Regions from separate parts of the Homo sapiens genome. Here region 1 is linked to region 2. A link means that fine-mapping ties the variant in region 2 to the expression of a gene that starts in the linked region. Tissue or cell type: whole blood. Region 2 holds a variant in brackets; the other region holds the start of a gene. All regions are shown on one strand. Distances are between the middles of the regions.

The links. PIP is the estimated chance that this variant, and not a neighbour inherited with it, causes the effect.
Region 1: it holds the start of TLR3, and the variant in region 2 is fine-mapped to the expression of TLR3 in whole blood (TOPMed, PIP 0.97).

What each region holds. Positions count from the first base shown.
Region 1 is chr4:186,065,296-186,073,405 of GRCh38, reverse strand. TLR3 (toll like receptor 3) reads right to left here and starts at 4,250. Exons shown (of 5, transcript NM_003265.3): 1 at 4,158-4,250.
Region 2 is chr4:186,176,555-186,184,664 of GRCh38, reverse strand. No RefSeq gene overlaps it. Among named protein-coding and RNA genes, the nearest start is that of FLJ38576, 11 kb to the left of the region's middle. The variant C/T (reference allele first, on the strand shown) is at 4,749.

The sequences.
Region 1 (8,110 bases), 110 kb after region 2:
TGGGACTACAGGCACGCGCCACCATGCCTGGCTAATTTTTATATTTGTAGTAGAGACAGGGTTTCACCATGTTGGCCAGGCTGGTCTTGAACTCCTGACCTCAGGTAATCCATCCACCTCGGCCTCCCAAAGTGCTGGGATTATAGGGGTGAGCCACCACGCCTGGTCCAGTCAGACCATTTTTTAAAGAGACTTCTTTCCCCCACCGGATTGTTCTGTGCTTTCCTTAGAAACCGAGTAAATGTTTTAAGCGAGGGTCTATTTCTGGGCTGTCTACTCTCTTCCACTGAAATATTTGTTAGTTCTTAGGCCAATACCACATTGTTCGGATTACTTTAGCTTTACAACAAGTCTTGAAGTTCAGTGAGCGAAACCTCCCATCTTGCTCTTCTTCTAGATTGCCTTTTCCGTTGCTATGGTTGATGGAAATTATCCAATATTGTGTATTATTTATTATTAATTATTGCTTCTCACTAGAATGTGAAGCTATAATAGTAGAGGACATAGTTCTTATTCCATACGGTGTTGTCTGTGCCTAGAACAAGACCTGGCACTTTGTTGGCTCTGAAGAAATAAATATATGTTGAATACATAGCCGATATGGTTTGCCTCTGCGTCTCCACCCACACCACACGTTGAATTGTAATTCCCAGTGTTGGAGGTGGGGGCTGGTGGGAGGTGACTGGCTCATGGGGCAGAGTTCTCACAGATGGTTCAGCACCACCCCCTCGGTGCTGTTCTCCCGATAGTGAGTGAGTGAATTCTTATGAGATTCGGTCGTTTAAAAGTGTGTGGTGGTTGGGCGCAGTGGCTCACGCCTGTAACCCCAGCACTTGGGAGGCCAAGGTGGGCAGATCACCTGAGGTCAGGAGTTTGAGACCAGCCTGGCCAACATGGTGTAACCGTGTCTCTACTAAATACAAAAATTAGCTGGGTGTGGTGGTGGGTGCCTGTAATCCCAGCTACTGGGAAGGCCGAGGCAGGAGAATCGCTTGAACTAGGGAAGCGGAGGCTGCAGTGAGCCGAGATCCCACCACATGCACTCCAGCCTGGGTGACAAAGTGAGACTTCGCCCCCACTCCCCCCAAAATAAATAATAAAAAAATAAAAGTGTGTGGCACCTTCCCCTTCTCTCTTCTTCCTGCTCCGGCTATGTGAAGGTGCCAGCTCTGGCTTTGCCTTCTGTGGTGGGTGAAAGCTCCTTGAGGCTCCTCCAGAAGCAGAGGCTGCTATGCTGCCTGCACCACTTGCAGAACCATCAGCCAATTGAACCTCTTTCTTTATAAATGACCAGTCTCAGGTATTTCTGTAGAGCAATGTGAGAATGCACTCATACAATAGCTTTCCATGGGCATTTAGTCAGCTCAGGAAAGCCACTCAACTCCATACATTGTCACACTTTATTTTGGTGGGATGTGTACCCAGTGTGATACTCTGTGGTGTGATCAACAACCAAATTTCAGATATTTTAAAAAATCAAATACACCCACAAGGTATGGAGATGAAGCAGTGGTAATGATATCTAAATAGATATTCCACAAGATCTAAAAGTCATGACATGAAAATTATTCCAGGTAAGTGTCAGGTAATAAAATCACCTTAGGTGACTAATCCTAGGAAAACAGAACTAATGTGAGTATATAGAATTGTTCTAATATACTTAAAAATAGCGATTTTACTAATATTCTAATTTAGTTCTCAGAAACAGAAAAAACAACAAAAAAAACTGGCTTCCATAAACTAATATTCCCATCTCATGGCCTTTACAACTCTGGCACTAATCATTGTAAAGCTGTGCACATTCTTTATATCCACAGGCCATGAGGAATGCCACAGCTAGGCCAGCAAGGATGCATTTGCTGACTTGCCCAGGCACGTGAAGGATGCAGGGCTGGCAATGATACCTCTCAAATGCTGGGGACCAGCTCCCCACCTGCCCCCTCTCTGAGAGTGTCCCAAACCTCTCTTCCAGTTCCTTCAGAACTTCCTATCTCTATTTACCAACTCATAGGTAAGGTCCCTACAATACATTCTCCTTGCTTAGGTGAGATGTACCCCTCTGGTAGGGCTCCTGCTATAGGTCAGAATTGCTGAGAAGGACTAATCCATTACAAAGCATATCCCTGAATGACTTAAGGACTTGCCCCATCTGAAGACATTTCATCAGTGGGCAAAACTCACCAAATGCTAGGCAGGAGGAGTGAAAGAGGAACAAACTTGGAGAGACTCCTATGAAATTTCAGAATTGCAACCATGCACACAAAAATCCTAAAACCTTCATTTCCAAAGAAAAGAGATCTTGATTAATAAAAAACTTTTCATCAGTAACATGAACCACTGGAAAACAATAGAGATAAGCTTTCCAAACATTTAGAGAAAATTATTTTGAATTTAAAATTTCATATCCAGGCAAAGCATAGTGGCTCATCCCCACAATCCCGGCACTTTAGAAGGTGTAGGCAGAAGGAGATCAGGAGCTCAACACCAGCCTGGGCAACATAGTGAGACCCCGTATCTACAAAAATATTTTAGAAAGTAGCCAAGTGTGGTGGCACAAGCCTGTAGTTCCAGCTACTTGGGAGGCTGAGGCAGGAGGATCGCTTGAGCCCAGGAGGTTAAGGCTGCAATGAATCATGATCACACCACTGCACTCCAGCCTGGGCAACAGAGCAAGACCTTACCTCTAAAAAACAAGAAAATTACCTTTGACCAGGCCAAGAAAATTACCTGTGGCTCATGCCTGTAATCCCATCACTTTAGGAAGCTGAGGCTGGAGGATCCCTTGAGCCTAGGAGTTTGGGACCAGCCTGGGCAACACAGGGAAACCTCATCTCCACCAAAATTTTTTTTTAAATTAGCTGGCCATAGTGGTTCACACCTGTGGTCCCAGCTACTCGTGACACTGAGGTGTGAGAATTGCTTGAGCCAGGGAGGTCAAGGCTGCAGTGAGCCACGATCATGCCACTGTACTTCAGCCTGGGCAACACAGCGAGACCTTGTCTCTAAATCGATAAATGAAATAAAATGAAATAAAATAAAATAAAATAAGATAGGGAAATTTCACATCCATCTGAATAACTAAATAAAAAGGTATAAGTATTTTGAGATATGCAAAAATTCAGTAAGTTTATAGCCATACGATCTGTATGAAAAGGTTATTCTAGGACATGCTTCAGTAAAACAAGCAAAAATGCAGTTAAAGGATGAAATGAGAGTGAAGAAAACGTTGCTGTTGAATGAGATCTAGCAGAAATAAAGAAAATGAAAAAAAATTAAAAAGAGACTCACTCAGCCTTAGAATTTTGGAAATATTTTGTGAGGGCACATGGAATTCACATTCTTTGTCCAAGTGAGAGACAATATTGCCTGATGGTTAGGACATGGGGTCTGGAGGCAGACTACCTGGAGTTAACCACTATCCATAGTTTGATTTGTAAACTTTGCAACCTTTGTAGTAGGTTCATACACAGGCACGCCCATATGAAGACACATACCAGCACGTAATCATCTGTAAACCTGGGAATCAACTTGCTGAAGCCAACTCCATTTTTACCCGAGTACCCCACAATTGCCGATACCAGTTTCTGATCTTCCCATACACCTTAACAACTTTCCACTTCTCCACTTCTTCCATTATCCTTCATTAGGTGAAAGAAAGCCATTTACTTACTCCTAGGCATACCTGAATGTTCTCTCCTATCTAAGACATTGTCATACAATGCCAGCTCCTGTCTCCCCTCCAGCCAATAAAACTAACAAAAGGGGATACGCTCTTTTAACCTCTTGGAGTTTTGTTTCTTTAAGGCAAAGATGTGATTTGCTAAAAAGACTGTTGCAAAATGATTTCCATAGCTTCCCTAATGTGTTTTTTCCAGGTACAGAATGCTACAGAGAAAAAAATTAAATACTGCATAAATACATTATCACATTAACTAGATATTGGTGCTATTACTTGTGTTCTGAGTTATACCCTTCTCCCATGCCCATATCATATCCCTTTTCTTCCACTTTCCTTCCTGAATAATTCTGACTAGATTTCAAGCACCAGATCAAAGAAAGACCAAAGAAGGCTAAAACCACATGCATTCTGCTAGCAAACTCTACTCAGCAAGAGAGACCCTGCCCAGTAAGAACGTGAAATGAACACCTTCACTTACTTGGATGACTGCTAGCCTTTCCTTTTTTCTTTAGTCCAAATCCAGACATTTCATCAGGGAAGTGTGTGGCAAATAGACGGCACTCTCGAAAGTGAAAGTAAAGCTTGAAAAAAAATGCTTTTATGTTTGGTGCATTCCAAGAAGGGCAAAGGGAGAAAACAAAAACAATCTCTGACAACCTCAGAGAGGCGTTTCAAACCGCCTCTGAAAAACACCTAGTTTTTATTTTATTTTAACTTTTTTTAAGCTGAGATCCTTGGATTTCATTGAAAGGGTCACAGATTTAGCAACAGCTAAAGTTGAAAGTGGGGACCTCACCATTTGATGTGGGCGGGTCTGGACCTCTGCAAGTTAAGGAATAACAGTGAATCCCTCAATTTTCTGCTAGACTCATGCGAAGCTGTCAGAATTGAGTAGTGTATGGTCACAGGGACAGAAAAAAAAATCCCTAATCAAAGCTGAAGTACTTTCCCTTCTTTCGTCTGGCTTTTATCTCTTTGCAACACTGTAAAATAACACCGGCAGAAATTAACCTCTTGATCCAGGAAGAAACTGAGTTTCACAGCAGAGAAAGAGCCAAACATGGCAAAGCTGAGAGCCAGTCCCACTCCTGCTGATCCACTTTTCCACGGTCAGACGCGTTAGGGAACAGATCAGTATGCCCAGAAAAGTTCAGATTAACTAAGAATTTCGTTCTTAATTTGCTTTAATGACTCCAACTAGTTAAGTAAATGTACTTGTTAAGAAATGAACTCACTTTTTTTCATTACAGATGTGCTATGATCTATTATAACTATATTGTTATATAGTGAAATATCACAATTGGAAGGAACTATAGACCACCTAATCTAACTCCCTTGTTTGAGAAATTAGGAAAACGAAACCTAGGGAGGTGAGTGGTTTGCCTAAGAACATGCCACAAGCCACCATATGCTTCAATCACACAAGTCATAAAACAACTGGACGGCTGGGACATGGCATTAGCTTGAACTCATTGCAGAGCTGATGGCAAGAAACAAGCGTGCATCATGGTGCAAAGTGCCCTCTTGTGGGCTCCAGCTTCAGCTAGACCGCTTTATAGTTACTGGGCTCAGGGCTACATGTCTCTGATTTTCATTTGTGACATCTGTAACATAACACCATAAGCAAACAGATGTCCTGAGTACGTGACTGTCCCTCACATCTATCCATTGGGATGTCCAGGAAAACTTCACTAATATTCAAAAGATTTCTTCTCTGTGAGCGCCTTGAAGGCAGGGTGAGGTTTATTCTTTGCATTATAGCTCCCCAGCAACCCTCTGAGGTAGACTGTTTCTTTGGCCTTCAATGAAAGAGACTCGTCCTCAGAATTCAAACCCTTGTGTGGCCTTCTCCCACGCTGACTCTAGGCTTGGCCATTTGACTAGCTTTGACCAGTGGGATATTAGCAAGCATGCAACAAGGTCTCATTGCCAAACACGATTACCCAGGCTTGAGAAGCAAGCAAATAAATGATTGTTGTTTTAAATTTAAAAAAATTGGAATGGTGTCATATGCATTATTAGCGAAATAAAACACATCATCTCAACAATCCTTCATACCTATCCCTTATGCCTTATGACTCCTTATACAGATTAAATTTCCCACGACTTTGGTTGACTAATGAATGGCTCTCGATAAATAAATTTTATTGATGGTCTCCTGATGCAGTAGTTTGGGCTTAATACCAGTTCATATTCAGATATTATTAGTCCTTAATTCTTGCTAGTTTCTAAATACAACACAGATTGTTTTCTCTCTACTGTACATTTCTTAACTATGTGCATTAACTTATTTAGCTATGATGGTGATTGGAGCAATAGTGAAAAACCTCATTTTTCCCCTTTTTAAAAGAATTAAGGCTGGGAGCAGTGGATCATGCCTGTAATCCCAACACTTTAGGAGATTGCTTGAGCCTAGGAGTTCAAGACCAACCTGGGCAACGTGGTAAAACTCCATCTCTACAAAAATTACAAAAATTAGCTGGGCATGTTGGTGCATGCCTATAGTCTCAGCTACTTGGGAGGCTGAGGTGGGAGGATCACTTGAGTCCAGGCAAATTCAAGTTTGCATTGAGTCATGAGTGCGCCACTGCACTCCAGCCTGGGTAACAGAGGGAGACCCTGTCTCAAAAAAAGAGAGAGAGAGAATTAAAAAAAAATGTATGCCCATAAATGTAAAATAACAAATTTAGTAAACACTGATATTTCACAGCATTACAGATCAGCCAATCTCAGAATAATGGGAAGCTGTATATTCCCAGCAAAACAGAGATCTACAGAATTCTAGAAGCCAAAGTCCCTTAAATTTATTCACATTCTAAAAACTCTAAGTTCCCTTCTTCCATTTGAGGGGCCTCTTTAATGAGAGTTTAGTAAGATAATATACACAAAATTTCTGGAAGAATCACTTGACAAAACACAGCAAGTTACAGAGACCGGAGTGACAAGCCAGATATAATTAGCAAATTACCACTCACATGCTGAACTACACAGACACTGTTCTTCTCTGCCCGTTCCTAATAACAATTCTTAATAAAACAGCCGTTTTTATTTTTTTTAATCTTTTTTTTCCTGAGACAGAGTCTTGCTCTGTCACCCAGGCTGTAATTCAGTGGCGCGATCTCAGCTCACTGCAAGCTCCGCCTACCGGGTTCAAGTAATTCTCCTGCCTCAGCCTCCAGAGTAGCTAGCTGGGACTACAGGCACGTGCCACGACGCCCGGCTAATTTTTTGTATTTTTGGTAGAGACGAGGTTTCACCGTGTTAGCCAGGATGGTCTCGATCTCCTTACCTCGTGATCCACCCACCTTGGCCTCCCAAAGTGCTGTGATTACAGGCGTGAGCCACTGCGCCCGGCCAATTACAACCATTTTACCTATAGACAAAGATAGTGTATAGTCTGTAGGCAGTCTAGTCAATTCATTATAAGATTTATAAGGGAAAGTTTATCATTTTCATTATCATCATTATCAGCACCTACAATACTGAGGCTTTACGGAACCATCTTTACAATCTCCCGAATGAATGAATTTAGACATGAGGATTGTGTCACCGCAGTTTCTAACCACAAATATAGAGAATTGAAATTGTGGGGCAAACAGAAGACTCTCCTCTCAATGCATGTATGTGAAAAGGCAGATTAGTACTGAACAATACAATAATTACACTCTGTGAGGGCCAAATATAGAGAGAACTAATTGCTCAGTAATACTTAACATTTGTGCCAGCAATGAATATCCAATTATGAGTGAGCTGTTGGGTATTTGAGGCAATATCATGCATAGGTTTAATTTAAACGGGCTCTTAGAGTCTCAGAAGTAAACCTTTATTCATGGTGTTAAAGTACATTAAAATGGAGACCAGGCCAGAAGAATCCATGAACATACCAAACCAGCAAGGGCTCATAAGCGACCTCGACCTTGCTTGATCTGCAAACATAAGTGACATACGCAAACATAATAACTTGAGCACTATATCTTGTAAATGCCTATATTAAAGAAAACGTAAACACAACCAATCAGAAGCAGCCAACAAACTTATATAACTAAGGACTTTCCAATGAGATAGACCAAATAAGGTAGCTGTATAACTGTAAACAGTCAAGCGCTGTCTTTGCTCTACTTCTGTCTCTGTCCTGAAAAAGCCTTCTCTTGTGTTCCCTTGGTGGAGCTCCCCAACCACTTCTGGTTCATGAATCATTGCTGGTTCAGAAGCACTGTAAAACTGTATTGTGCCTCAGTTTACTTTTTTATTTGTATAGATTTATGGGAGTACTAGTGCCATTTTGTTCCATGCGTAGATTGCATAGTGATGGAGTCAGGGTCTTTAGGGTATTCATCACCCAAATAACATATATTGTGCCATTAGTATCAGTTTACTTTTTAAGAATAGGAACAAGGAGATTGGACCAACCAATGTTCTCTGGGTTGGCAG
Region 2 (8,110 bases):
CATATCCAGCCAAACTAAGCTTCATAATTGAAGGAGAAATAAAATCCTTTACAGACAAGCAAATGCTGAGAGATTTTGTCACCACCAGGCCTGCCTTACAAGAGCTCCTGAAGGAAGCACCAAACATGGAAAAGAACAACTGGTACCAGCCACTGCAAAAACATGCCAAATTGTAAAGACCATCAGGCTAGGAAGAAACTGCATCAACTAACGAGCAAAATAACCAGCTAACATCATAATGACAGGATCAAATTCACACATAACAATATTAACCTTAAATGTAAATGGGCTAAATGTGCCGATTAAAAGACACAGACTGGCAAACTGGATAAAGAGTCAAGATCCATCAGTGTGCTGTATTCAGGAGACCCATCTCACGTGCAGAGACACATATAGGCTCAAAATAAAGGGATGGAGGAAGATCTACCAAGCAAATGGAAAACAAAAAAAAAAAGCAGGGGTTGCAATCCTAGTCTCTGATAAAACAGACTTTAAACCAACAAAGATCGGAAGAGACAAAGAAGGCCATTACATAATGGTAAAGGGATCAATTCAACAAGAAGAGCTAACTATCCTAAATATATATGCACTCAATACAGGAGCACTGAGATTCATAAAGCAAGTCCTTAGAGACTTATAAAGAGACTTAGACTCCCACACAATAATAATGGGAGACTTTAACACCCCACTGTCAACATTAGACAGATCCACGAGACAGAAAGTTAAGAAGGATATCCAGGAATTGAACTCAGCTCTGCACCAAACAGACCTAATAGACATCTACAGAACTCTACACCATAAATCAACAGAATATACATCCTTCTCAGCACCACATCGCACTTATTCCAAAATTGACCACATAGTTGGAAGTAAAGCACTCCCCAGCAAATGTAAAAGAACAGAAATTATAACGAACTGTCTCTCAGACCACAGTGCAATCAAACTAGAACTCAGGATTAAGAAACTCACTCAAAACCGCTCAACTACATGGAAACTGAACAGCCTGCTCTTGAATGACTACTGGGTACATAATGAAATGAAGGCAGAAATAAAGATGTTCTCTGAAACCGATGAGAACAAAGACACAACATACCAGAATCTCTGGGAAACATTTAAAGCAGTGTGTAGAGGGAAATTTATAGCACTAAATGCCCACAAGAGAAAGCAGGAAAGATCTAAAATTGATACCCTAACATCACAATTAAAAGAACTAGAGAAGCAAGAGCAAACACATTCAAAAGCTAGCAGAAGGCAAGAAATAACTAAGATCAGAGCAGAACCGAAGGAGATAGAGACACAAAAAACCCTTCAAAAAATCAATGAATCCAGGATGTGGTTTTTTGAAAAGATCAACAAAATTGATAGACCGCTAGCAAGACTAATAAAGAAGAAAACAGAGAAGAATCAAATAGACGCAATAAAAAATGATAAAGGGGATATCACCACCGATCCCACAGAAATACAAACTACCTCAGAGAATACTATAAACACTTCTATGCAAATAAACTAGAAAATCTAGAAGAAATGGATAAATTCCTGGACACATACACCCTCCCAAGACTAAGCTAGGAAGAAGTTGAATCCCTGAATAGACCAATAACAGGCTCTGAAATCGAGGCAATAATTAAGAGCCTACCAACCAAAAAAAGTCCAGGACCAGATGGATTCACAGCCGAATTCCACCAGAGGTACAAAGAGGAGCTGGTACCGTTCCTTCTGAAACTATTCCAATCAATAGAAAAAGAGGGAATCCTCCCTAACTCATTTTATGAGGCCAGCATCATCCTGATACCGAAGCCTGGCAGAGACACATACAAAAAAGAGAATTTTAGACCAATATCCCTGATGAATATCGATGCAAAAATCCTCAATAAAATACTGGCAAACCAAATCCAGCAGCACATCAAAAAGCTTATCCACCATGATCAAGTGGGCTTCACCCCTGGGATGCAAGGATGGTTCAACATATGCAAATCAATAAATGTAATCCAGCATATAAATAGAACCAAAGACAAAAACCACATGATTATCTCAATAGATGCAGAAAAGGCCTTTGACAAAATTCAACAACCCTTCATGCTAAAAACTCTCAATAAATTAGGTATTGATGGGACATATCTCAAAATAATAAGAACTATTTATGACAAGCCCACAGCCAATATCATACTGAATGGGCAAAAACTGGAAGCATTCCCTTTGAAAACTGGCACAAGACAGGGATGCCCTCTCTCACCACTCCTATTCAACATAGTGTTGGAAGTTCTGGCCAGGGCAATCAGGCAGGAGAAAGAAATAAAGGGTATTCAATTAGGAAAAGAGGAAGTCAAATTGTCCCTGTTTGCAGATGACATGACTGTATATTTAGAAAACCCATCATCTCAGCCCAAAATCTCCTTAAGCTGATAAGCAACTTCAGCAAGGTCTCAGGATACAAAATCAATATGCAAAAATCACAAGCTTTCCTATACACCAATAACAGACAAACAGAGAGCCAAATCATTAGTGAACTCCCATTCACAATTGCTACAAACAGAATAAAATACCTAGGAATCCAACTTACAAGGGATGTGAATAACCTCTTCAAAGAGAATTACAAACCACTGCTGAACCAAATAAAAGAGGACACAAACAAATGGAAGAGCATTCCATGCTCATGGATAGGAAGAACCAATATTGTGAAAATGGCCATACTGCCCAAGGTAATTTATAGATTCAATGCCATCCCCATCAAGCTACCAATGACTTTCTTTACAGAATTGGAAAAAACTACTTTAAAGTTCATATGGAACCAAAAAAGAGCCCGCATTGCCAAGTCAATCCTAAGCCAAAAGAACAAAGCTGGAGGCATCACGCTACCTGACTTCAACCTATACTACAAGCCTACAGTAACCAAAACAGCATGGTACTGGTACCAAAACAAAGATATAGACCAATGGAACAAAACAGAGCCCTCAGAAATAATACCACACATCTACAACCATCTGATCTTTGACAAACCTGACAAAAACAAGAAATGGGGAAAGGATTCCCTATTTAATAAATGGTGCTGGGAAAACTGGCTAGCCCATATGCAGAAGGCTGGAACTGGATCCCTTCCTTACACCTTATAAAAAATTAATTCAAGATGGATTAAAGACTTAAATGTTAGACCTAAAACCATAAAAACCCTAGAAGAAAACCTTGGCAATACCATTCAGGACATAGGCATGGACAAGGACTTCATGTCTAAAACACCAAAAGCAATGGCAACAAAAGCCAAAATTGACAAATGGGATCTAATTAAACTAAAGAGCTTCTGCACAGCAAAAGAAACTACCATCAGAGTGAACAGACAACCTACAAAATGGGAGAAAATTTTTGCAATCTACCCATCTGACAAAGGGCTAATATCCAGAATCTACAAAGAACTTAAACTAATTTACAAGAAAAAAATCAAACAACCCCATCAACAAGTGGGCGAAGGATATGAACAGACACTTCTCAAAAGAAGACATTTATGCAGCCAACAGACACATGAAAAAATGCTCATCATCACTGGCCATCAGAGAAATGCAAATCAAAACCACAATGAGATACCATCTCACAGCAGTTAGAATGGCGATCATTAAAAAGTCAGGAAACAACAGGTGCTGGAGAGGATGTGGAGAAATAGGAACACTTTTACACTGTTGGTGGGACTGTAAACTAGTTCAACCATTGTGGAAGACAGTGTGGCAATTCCTCAAGGATCTAGAACTAGAAATACCATTTGACCCAGCCATCCCATTACTGGGTATATACCCAAAGGATTATAAATCATGCTGCTATAAAGACACATGCACACGTATGTTTACTGCGGCACTATTCACAATAGCAAAGACTTGGAACCAACCCAAATGTCCATCAATGATAGACTGGATTAAGACAATGTGGCACATATACACCATGGAATACTATGTAGCCATAAAAAAGGATGAGGTCATGTCCTTTGTAGGGACATGGATGAAGCTGGAAACCATCATTCTGAGCAAACTGTCGCAAGGACAGAAACCCAAACACCACATGTTCTCACTCATAGGTGGGAATTGAACAATAAGAACACTTGGACACAGGATGGGGAACATCACACACCAGGGCCTGTCATAGGGTGTGGGGAGAGGGGAGGGATAGCATTAGGAGATATACCTAATGTAAATGACGAATTAATGGGTGCAGCACACCAACATGGCACATGTATACATATGTAACAAACCTGCACATTGTGCACATGTACCCTAGAACTTAGTATAATAAAAAATAAAATAAAATAAAATACACTCAAATCAAAAAAAAGAAAAACTCTCTCCCTCCAGATATACATTATATTACATAATCTAATATCTCCTAATAATTTTGTTGCTCTGAAGAACTCTAATATACTCATTTTTATTAAATTTATTCCTAGGTATTTGATTTTTGAATCTATTATATTGTATTTTTATAAATTGTATTATCTGTTGTTATATAGAAATGCACGTAATTTTTATATTGACTGTTTTCAATGATGTTGTTAAATCACATTTTTAAGTGTGTTTGTAATTATTTTGGATTTTCTATGTACACAATCATGTTTTCTGTGAAAAACCAAATTGTTTCTTTCTTCCTAAATCTTAAGACCCTTTAATAATTTAATCTTGCCCTGCTGGGGTGGAAAATATATTCTGTATCATGAATAACAGTGGCGGTAGCTGACACTTCGTATTATCTGATCTCAGGAAGTATAGCTTCTT[C/T]AGTAAGTAAAATCAGAATAAAATTACCACTAAGTATGCAGTTTGCAGTTGTTTTTTTCCCCTAGATACTCATGAAGAGATAACAGTGATATTCTTATCTTCCTGGTTGACTAAGAATTTTTATAAAGACATTTTCTTCATCTTTCGAGAAGATCCCATGCTTGTTTCCTTACATCATTTGTTGCACTGAATGATTTTCACATGGTACATCAAACTTGCATTTCTGAAATAAATTTAATTTGGATGGTACGTATTATCTATTTCATATATTACTGATTTGATTTTGCTTGGGAGTTCAGGGATGATATTGGCCTATAATTCGCTTTTTTTTTTTTTTTTATAATTCTCAGTTACTTTATTGTAATTTACTTTTTTTTTTTGTAATGTCCTTGTTAGGTTTTGTATCAGGGTTGTGGTAGCCTTACAAAATGACAATCATCTTGAATAACTTTTTTGTTAGTTTTTTAGAGAGACAAAGTCTCACTCTGTTACCCAGGCTGGAGTGCAGTGGCGTGATCATAACTCACTGTAACCTCGAGCCTCTGGGCTCAAGCAATCCTCCTGCTTCAGCCTCCCAAAGTGCTGGGATTATAGGCATGAGCCACTATGCCCAGGCCTGAAGAGCTTTTTGATATTGCTACTAGTGGTATTAGTTTTTCCTTAAATATTTGGAAGGATTAACCAATGAAGTCAGCAGGACTTGGAGTTGTCTTTGTGAGAAGGCTTTTAATAATACATTTAAGTCTTATAATAGACATAACCCTTTTCAAATTTTCTATTTCTTCTTGAGTGATGTGATTTTTTCAAAGTTTTAATTTTCATCTAAATTACCAAATCAAGTTATTCATAGTATAATGCTTATCTTTTTTCACATCTATAGAATCAGCAGTGGTATGCCTATTTTCATTCCTGATAGTATTTTGTGCCTTCATCTCGCTATATCACACGCACTGCTTTATAAAACTCTACCTTAGAACAGTAATCCTGGACAATGATGAATCTATAACACTTTAACAGCAAATAAACCCTTCCCAATTTTAAGCTATTTCTATAATATTTTAATCCCAAATATATACTGAATTCTGTATTACTCATTATTTTATACAGTAAGTATTCTTTTCTATTTTCCCACGTATGTATACATTCTGATCTTTATTACTTCTTCTTTTATCATTGTACTTCCTTCTGGGATAATTTTCCTACTCTGTGAAGAGCTCTCGTTTGTATTTCCTTTAGTACAGATTTGCCGGTGATAAATTCCCAATTTTGGTTTATCTGAAAATACTGCTCTTTTGCCCTCATTTTTGAGGTATATGTTTACTACGTATAAAATTCTGGGTTGGCAATTATTTTTTTCAGCACTTTAAAGATGCTTTTTATATTGTCTTTCAGCTTCCATCACTTGTGTTGAAAAGTCAAATATTAGTCTTATTGTTGCTTCTTTGAAGATAATGAGTCTTTCCCCCCTCCCTCTGACTGCTGTTTGGTTCTTTTTGATTTGGGGTTTCTAGCAGTTTGTGATGGACCTGAGTATGTTTTGCTTTCTATCTTGTGTTTCTTATAGCTTCTTAAATGACTGCATCGATGTCTTCTATCTATTTTTGGAAGATTCTTTCATGGTATCTGTTCAATACTGCATTGTTCTATTCTCTTTCTCCTCTATGACTATCATTACACGGATATGAGATTTTTTCACATGGCCTCACAATTTTTAAGGAATATCTATTTTTTATGCTTGTTCAAAGTGAATACTGTGTATTGACCTGCCTTCCAGTTTACTAAGCCTCTTGTCTGCTATGTGTAATCTGCAGTTCAACACAGCTAGTGAATTATTGAGTCATTGTATTATTCATTTCTAGGATATCAGTTTGATTATTTTTCAGATTACAGTTCTCTCTTGAAATTGTTTTTCAATATATTTTTGAATGTGCAAATCAAATTGTTTCTTAGCTTGTACCTGATAGTGCTACTATTTTAATCACGTGTGGGTCCATTATAATTTTGTTTTCTCTCTTGGCTTTCAGTCACTTGGCCCTATATCCTGGGCTGTCTCTTAATTTTAGATTGAATGCTGTACATTGTATATAAAAATAATAGAAATTCTAGGTGATGCTATATTTCTTTAAAGAGGATACTTTTTCTGGTGGTCATATAAAGTACAGGCATATAACCTGGATCTAAACAGAGGTTTCATTGATTCTAGGTTCTGCTTCTAGTGTTTTGAGGACTTGTCTGTATTAAGCTTGCCCTTACTCCTAGAGTGTAGTCCTTCAAGATTATCAATTCAAAGTCTGAGACATTTCCCAACATCATTCCTTTTGGCAGCCTAGTGAGCTTGTCACAAATTTTGAGGGTATCCCTTTTTCTTGGCCTCTATGCCCCATTACTAATCTAAAATATATTGATACAGGGAAAGAAAACAGTAGCAAATATGGGGTTCATCTCAATGTATTATTCCTGTTGTCTCCCAATTTGTTTCCTGAAGTTGTGCTGCTTTGTCTTGGGGGGCTGGGTGGGTGTGGATGTGGGTGTCCACGCGTGCCTCCAAAGAGCTGTTTCTTGTCCATTTATAGCTTTTATAGTTGTTCTCAGTAGGTCAGTTTGCTCATGAACTATTCTTTCATAAACAGTAGTGGAATGCCTCCATGTTTATTTTTAACATCATTTTGATTCTGTATATTTTTGAAATCTTTTGCCTTCTAAGCTAAAACTTTCACCCCCACAATGTTCTTTTTGTGAACTCTGAAGACATCCTTCACAAGGTGTAGCCTTCTCTGAATGTTGCTTCTGAGTTATAACTTACTATTCACTCAGCTCTGTCAGCTTTTTCTTTAATTTTCCAGTGGGAATACACTCTGCATGTCCTCCAGAGAACACTAGAGCTATCTTCCTTTTTGGATCAACATTTTTATACTGAATAATGACATTCATCAAGATGAACCTTACTAGGAAACACACGTGCATGCACACACACACACACACACACACACACACACACATACTCTACTCCCCTGTACAGAAAAATTCCCTGGAAGACTTGCCCATGACTACTGTCTTGGATTTCTCTCTTCTTCTTTTCTCCCAAACCCACTGCAAGCCTACTTTCGCCTTGTCCATTCACCTAGCAGATCTTGTCAAGGCCACCAGTAACTTCCATGTGGCTAGACCTTTAGTCTGATTCTCAGACCTCATCGTAATTGACTCATCAACAGCATTCAACATACTTGAGTCCCTATCACTTCCTTGAAACACTTCCCCCGCACAAACACACACATACTTTGAGGACGCCACATTCTCCTGACTCTTATTTCCCTTCACCAGCCATTCTTTCTCAGTCTGCTTTGCTGGTTTTCCTTCACATC